Homo sapiens: one gene and its partner. The protein of the gene in region 2 interacts with the protein of the main gene of each other region in a pairwise test. Each region holds a gene or a part of one and is shown on either strand. Other genes may lie near its edges.

What was found.
Region 1: the proteins of CAPN10 (region 2) and LITAF interact in a two-hybrid assay, tested with the Homo sapiens proteins (one large-scale study listed by IntAct).

The regions. Positions count from the first base shown.
Region 1 is NC_000016.10:11,559,197-11,563,008, forward strand, and holds part of LITAF (lipopolysaccharide-induced tumor necrosis factor-alpha factor), read right to left. Parts: intron 1,971-3,812; exon of another isoform or gene 1,950-1,970; intron 1-1,949.
Region 2 is NC_000002.12:240,596,513-240,599,695, reverse strand, and holds the end of CAPN10 (calpain-10), read right to left. Parts: coding exon 3,175-3,183; intron 3,016-3,174; coding exon 2,754-3,015; intron 1,809-2,753; coding exon 1,609-1,808; intron 1,345-1,608; coding exon 1,299-1,344; intron 1,046-1,298; coding exon 1,016-1,045; 3' UTR 592-1,015; downstream 1-591.

The DNA of each region.
Region 1 (3,812 bases), on a different chromosome or scaffold from region 2:
AGTGAGCCATGATCATGCCACTGCACTCTAGCCTGGGTGACAGAGCGACACTCTATGTCTAAAAGAAAAAAAGAAATGAGCTAGTGTGAGTGAAGAACTGAATTTTTTTTGTTTTAGCTTCTTTTTCATCTTTTTACTTGCCAATGAATTTTTACTTGTATTTAAGTTTAAGCAATTTAAATGTGAAAACTAACAATTCAATTATTGGGAAGCTTTTATGTAAGTCTGGGACAACTTGAATATATGAATCATTTTTTCAATGGTAAATTTGATGAACACTGAATATAGATCAAAATGTTTTTTGATAAAAATTTAGCATTCAATTTGGGATAGAATGTCAATGTAAAAATACACCCTGGGTTTCAAAACTTAGTAGGAAAAAATGAATGTAAAATATCTCATTAATAATTTCTTATATTGATATATTAAAATGACCACAGCTTAGATATATGAAGTTAAGTAAAATGTATTGTTAATTTCACCTGTTTCTTTGTACCTTTCAAAATGTGGCTACTAGGCCGGGCATGGTGGCTTACACCTGTCATCCCAGCACTTTGGGAGGCTGAGGCAGGAGGATGGCTTGAGCCCAGGCATTCTAGATCAGCCTGAGCAACATAGGGAGACACTGTCTCTACAAAAAAATTAAAAATTAGCCAGACATGGTGGTGCACCCCTGTGGTCCCAGCTACTTGGGAGGCTGAGGTGGGAGAATCACTTAAACCCAGGAGTTCAAGTGAGCCGTGACTGCGCCACTGCACTCCAGCCTGGGCGAGACTGTCTCAAAAATAAATAAATAAAAACAAAATAAATAAAAAAGAGGCCAGACACAGTGGCTCACGACTATAATCCCAGTACTTTGGGAGGCCAAGGCAGACGGATCGCCTGAGGTCAGGAGTTTGAGACCAGCCTGGCCAACATGGTGAAACCCCGTCTCTACTAAAAATACAAAAATTAGCCAGGTGTGATATTGGGCGCCTGTAATCCCAGCTACTCAGGAGGCTGAGGCAGGATAATCACTTGAACACGGGAGGTGGAGGTTGCAGGGAGCTGAGATTGCGCCATTGCACTCTAGCCTGGGCAACAGAGTGAGACTCTGTCTCAAAAATCAATAAATAAATACATTAAATGTGGCGGCCAGGCACGGTGGCTCATGCCTGTAATCCCAGCACTTTGGGAGGCTGAGATGGGTGGATCATTTGAGGTAAGGAGTTCGAGACCAGCCTGGCCAACATGGTGAAACCCCATCTCTACTAAAAATACAGAAATTAGCCAGGTCTGGTGGCGTGCGCCTGTAATCCCAGCACTTAACCTGGGAGGCAGAGGTTGCAGCGAGCTGAGATCACACCACTGCACTCCAGCCTGGGCCACAGAGCGAGATTCCATCTCAAAAAAAAAAAAAATGTAGCTACTAAAAAATTTTAAATGATGTAATGAAGCTTGCTTTCTGCTCCTAATATACAGCAAAGCTGTGAGCCGTGGGAGTCACAGAAGGTTATAGAGAAGGGGAAAGGCCCAACCCCAGAAAAGACAGATGAGACAGAAGGTCTTTAAGAGGAGCAAGAAGCAAAGTAGAGAAGGCCACAGAAGCAGGAGGGCAGGGTGGGGCTGTAATGAGATCGCAGGAGGTGTTTGTGAAAACAGGCTCTGGTTTAACACTGAGACATGGTGTAAAGTGGTTTGAGGCGTGTTGCTAGTTTCCTCTGACGTACAGGAACAGAAATGCAGCAGTCCCAGCTTGCCCCTAAACTCAGCGGACATCCCTCCCAGATGACCCCGGGAACCCCTGACATCTGCTTCTGGCTTTGTTGAAACTTCCAGCAAAGGGAACGACAGGGCACCCTGGGGGTCTGGAGTGACCTACATCCGGGTTGAACGTCGAGGACTCGCCGTCACAGCCCCAGACCCACCTCCATGATTTATGGTGAAAACTGACTCGTATAAAAACTTACAAGACCAGGAAAAGCCAGTGTGTACAGAAATCCTCAAGGAGCATGGTTGGTCGTGATTGCCAATGGAATGCTTTGAGGGAAAACAAGGCCTGGGGCATCCTAAACCTCCAAGAGGCAATGGCTGAATTCGGCAGCGGCGCAATTCCTGCAAAAACCACGGCCTCTCCTCCCAAAGTGAGGAAACTGCATCTTTACAGAGTCAACACACAGGTGTGGGGGATGGGAGGATGGGAGCTTTCTTTTGACGACCTTTAAAAGATGGGTGGGCCCCAGTTTCTCGTTTTGGAAATTAAGGCCTCGGCCACCGCCTCTCCCCCTTTATTGAGACCATCTTTCATGTGGTAACATCTTATCTTCTGGGATTTCGAGACACTGCATCTTCTGAGCATTGCTTTGAGATCAAACAGCCACACAAACACATTTATAATTCTGAAAAGAACAAGAGCAACAGGCCAGAATAGTAAAAAAGACTCATAACCGCTGGTTTGGAAGTTTTCTAAATAAATTCCACAGTCTTCCCTCCCTCAGGCCCCAAGGCCAGGAAATGCCACCACGGTTAGTCCCATTTTGTTTCCCTTGTTTTGCGCCTTCATTTCAATTTGGCTTATCTCCTGGGATAAGAGGCCCACCCACCAACCATCCCTCTCCTCATCACCCCCCATCCCCTCCTTATCACCCCCCCAACTACGAAACTCTTAGAACAGCAATTAGTCCCCCTCACCCTAAACTCACACACACACTCTCCACAATGTCTTTTTTTTAAAAAAGAGGGAAAGGGAGAAAGAAAGAGAGAAACAGGGTCTCACTCTATTGCCCAGGCTGGAGTACAGTGGCATGATCATAGCTCGCCACAGCCTGAAACTCGTAGACTCAAACAATCCTCCTGTCTCAGCCTCTGGAGTAGGTGGGACTACAGGTGTGTGTCACCATACCTGGCTATAACTTTTTAATTTTACTTAGAGACAGGGTCTTGCTAAGCTGCCCAGGATGGTCATAAACTCCTGGGCTCAAGTGATCCTCCTGCCTCAGCCTCTCAAAGTGCTGGGATTACAGGCATGAGCCACCGTGCCCTGCCTCTCCACACTGTGAACCTGGGAGATGGAGGCTGCAGTGAGCCGAGATCGTGTCACTGCACTCCAGCCTGGGTGACTGAGCGAGACTCCGTCTCAAAAAAAAAAAAAAAAAAAAAAAAAGAAGGAAGAAAAGAAATTCGAACACTTTTTGAACAAAGGGCCTCGCGTTTCCATGCTGCACTGGAGCCCAGAAATTAAGTAGCCAAATGTGACCGGTGGTGACAGAAAAGGAAAAGGAGGCATTCCTGATCCATGGAGAATTTTGATCTGACATGCCCAGCTGTGGAATCACTTTCACATCTATAAATATGCCACTTGGGATATCTTGGGGTCCCTTTTAGCCAAAAGTTTTCCTCATTCTACCTCTCAACAATTTGCTCAACGAAAGGTATTCTTGCCCAGGCATGTTGGATCACGTCTGTAATCCCAGCACTTTGGGAGGCCGACGTGGGCAGATCACTTGAGCCCAAGAGTTTGAGACCAGTCTGGGAAACAAATTCAGACCATGTCTCTACAAATGGTACAAAAATTAGCCGGGCGTTATGGCAGATGCCTGTGGTCCTGGCTGCTCTGGAGGCTAAGGTAGGAGGATCACTTGAGCCCAAGAGTTTGAGACTGCAATAAGCTAGGATCACGCCACTGCTCTCCAGCCTGGGTGACAGAGCAAGACCTTGTCTCAAAACAAAAGAAAAAAAAATAGAGTCACAAAATCATATATAAAGACAATCTTTAAAAATTTTTTTTAATTAAAAAATATATATTAGCCAGACACGGTTGCACAAACTTGTAG
Region 2 (3,183 bases):
CCCACCCATGTCTGGAACTGTCTTCTGCACCGTTCAGTGACACTACAGCTCTCATCACAGCATTTGGTGTGAGGGACGAGGGAGAGAGGCCTGGGGAAATAAACAATCCTAGGACACTGCGCAGGTGAACCCTGGCTGGAGGCAGAGGAGCCGTCCAGATCCAAGGCTCCCAGTCCATGTGAACCTGGGGTTCCTCCCTCTGCGCAACTCCGGTTCTAACACCCGTTTCCGAGATGTCCTTCTTCGCCACAGCCTTGGCAGTGCCTTCGCTGGCTCTCCCCACCCCTCACTCCCCAGTCTATCAGTCTGTGTCCCCCAAGACCAGGGCTTGACCTGCCCCGGCCAGCCTCAACCTCAGCCCCCTGGCCTGGGGCATGCCCTGGGCCCGCCCCTCCAAACTTCTCCCCTCCTCCCCACTCACCATCTCCCCCTGAAACCTGCCCTGCCTGGGTTGGCTCTGCCCACCTCCCAGGCCCCCAGCCCCTCCAGAGGCCATCCTCATCCTCACCATCTCGGCAGGCACCCAGCCCTCCCCACAGCCTGCTTGGCAAGAGCAGGCACAGCCTGGAACTACCTGGAGCAAGACTGATCTGCAAATCATCAGCGCTCATGTTTATTTATAAAGTTACATCCTAAAAGTGATTCGAACAATAAATAGTTATAAAGAAGATCTGCTGCCCTACCCTCTGGGTGTGAGGCCTCCATATGGAGTCAGCAGAGGATCTGGGAGGGATCCTGGGAAGCTCTGGGATCCTGGGGTCTCTGCCGTCTCAGTGGCGCAACAGAAGCCAGCAAGCTTCCCACCCTTCCTTGCAGCACCAGCTGGCCCCCAGGGCTGCGTCTCTCCTGACGGAGGCTTCCCGTGGACCCCTAGGCCGCAGCCTCCTGGCAGGGCTGGGAGGCAGGCCAAGACTCAGGACCAGCCCCCACAGTGCAAGGCTGGCCGGCCCAGCTGCTGGGAACCTGTCAGGCCCTCGGGCTCCAGTCACCTGAGCTGGCACAGGGGGCCACCCTGTTAGGTTTTCATCACTGCCATGATGGAGACCTGCAAAGACAGATGGGGGGCCCGGGCAGCGGTGGCACTCGCCCCTTCTCACACCCCACCCCGAGTGCAGCCAGGGAATGGGACGCAGCCTCAGCTCCCCCTGCCCTTCAAGGCACCGCCCGGGGCTCTCACAGGAAGAGTCAAGGGCACCTCACGTCCCAGGCAGAAACCACCTGCCTGAGGTTGCAGGTAGACCCTAGGCCACCAGGCAGCCCCAGGCAGGTGAGCCGGGCTGGCGGGGCTGCATACACACCTCTTGGAGGAACTGGCCCAGCATCTCCTGGCTGTGAATGGATGGCCTGTGGAGAGACACCAGATCAGCGCTCCCAGACTGCACTTGTCACACAAGTGGCTGTGTGCTCCTGGCCCACCTCCCACTAGACTCTCCTTCCAGGCTCAGACCAGCAAGGAAGGGTCCCCAGGTAGGCAGGACAGCCCTGGTCTGCCAGGACAGATAGGGGCTTGAGGGTGAGGGGCAGGCAGGAGACGTGGGGGGACAGGCGAGCACTAAGACTCCAGCACCCCAGCCTCCAGCTGGCCGCCCCCAAGTCCCAGAGCCCCACCTGTCAATCCTGGTTGCGATGGTCACTGTGAAGGCCCCCTCTGTGTCCGGCAGGTAGGTGGAGGGCACAACCTTGTAGGTGCCCGCAGGCAGGAGGCAGAGCCGGCTCACCTCCTGGGCGTAGCGATGTGGCACGCAGCTCAGCAGCGGCTCCTGCAGCAGCAGTGGGGGTGCGTCCTGGCTCCTTCCACCCTCTGGGACCTGAGGAAAGCGCAGGCTCAGACTGAGGGGGCCAGCCTTGGGGTAGGGAGCCCAGCCCAGGGCCATCTGCTCGGATGCCCTTGGCCCTCTTGAGTCACATACAGCCCCTTCTCTGAGGAGGGGCTGCCAGGCCTGGACACTGGACTCGCCTCCTCACCAAGGCCTGGCCACCCTTGCCAGAAGGTGCCGGCAGTGGGGCCCCCGCCTGGAGGCCTGTCACATCATCAGGGGCTTTAACACCTGTGACTGCCCAGCCCGCCCCAAGGGCTCCCACTGGCCCTGGCATGTGTTTTCCTCAGAGCTCTAGGGGACCTGAGCCGGTGGCCCAGGGCAAACAGCGAGGGTCCAAGGGTCCCCAGGCAGCCCACTGTGAACCGAGGGTTGCAGTGCCTTCCTCGTCAGGGCCCCTGCATTCCAGGGGACACATGTCTGCAGAGAATGAACCTTGGGACACAGTCATTCTGAGTCAGGGTAAGTGGACAAGGGGCTGCTGGCTGAGCTCAGTGACTGTGGACTTCCTCACACCCGAGGGGCTGCTGTGGCCAGCCAGCCTGGGCCTCCCCTCCTCTCACTCCTGAGTCCATCAGCCCCCTGCGTTCCCAAGCCAGGGCTCGACCCACCCCCGCTGGTCTCAACCTCGGCCTCCTGTCCTCTCCAAACTTCTCCCTTCCTCCCCACTCACCACCTCCTCTGGAAACCTGCCCTGCCTGGATCAGCCCTGCCCACCTCCCAGGCCCCCGGCCCTTCCAGAGGCCATCTTCGGCCTTGCCTCTGAGAGGTTGGAGATGGGAGAGGGCCCTGTGCGGGTTCTAGGCAGCGCCTCGAAGGGCAGGGGGAGCCCAAGTGACTGAGCCCAGAGCCCTCTGTTGGGACAATGGAGGCCAAGATGCAAATTCTCTGAGGGCCCCTTCTGCTCCCCCTCCCTCCCTGGGGCAAGGAGCTTGCCTGGAAGATATGGAAGCCGATGGGGTGGAACTCGGTGTCACTGGGCCGGCAGTGCTGATGCAGAGTGATGCGGACGCAGCGGGGGCCAGGGCCCTCGGGGACCGAGAAGGGGAAGCAGGGGTTGGTGGGGTATGAGGCAAAGTTCCTGCTGCCCCCCGCCGTCTGGCCGACTCTCCAAGAACCCCGTAGCTGCACGGTCCCCCACTCCCCCGCAGGCAGGGCTGCCCCGGGGGTGGTGTTCTTGGCCACTGCCCTGATGGCGCTGCCAAGAAGACAAACATGGGAGGGCGCTGGCAGCAGGTTCCCGGTGGCCTCAGTTCCCACATGGACACCTGCCAACCACAGAGGGAAAGTGCCCAAATCCTGCCTTGGAAGGGCCTGTGGCCTCGGAGAGCCAGCAGCACTGCGCGGTTCCTCTCACCTAAGGGAG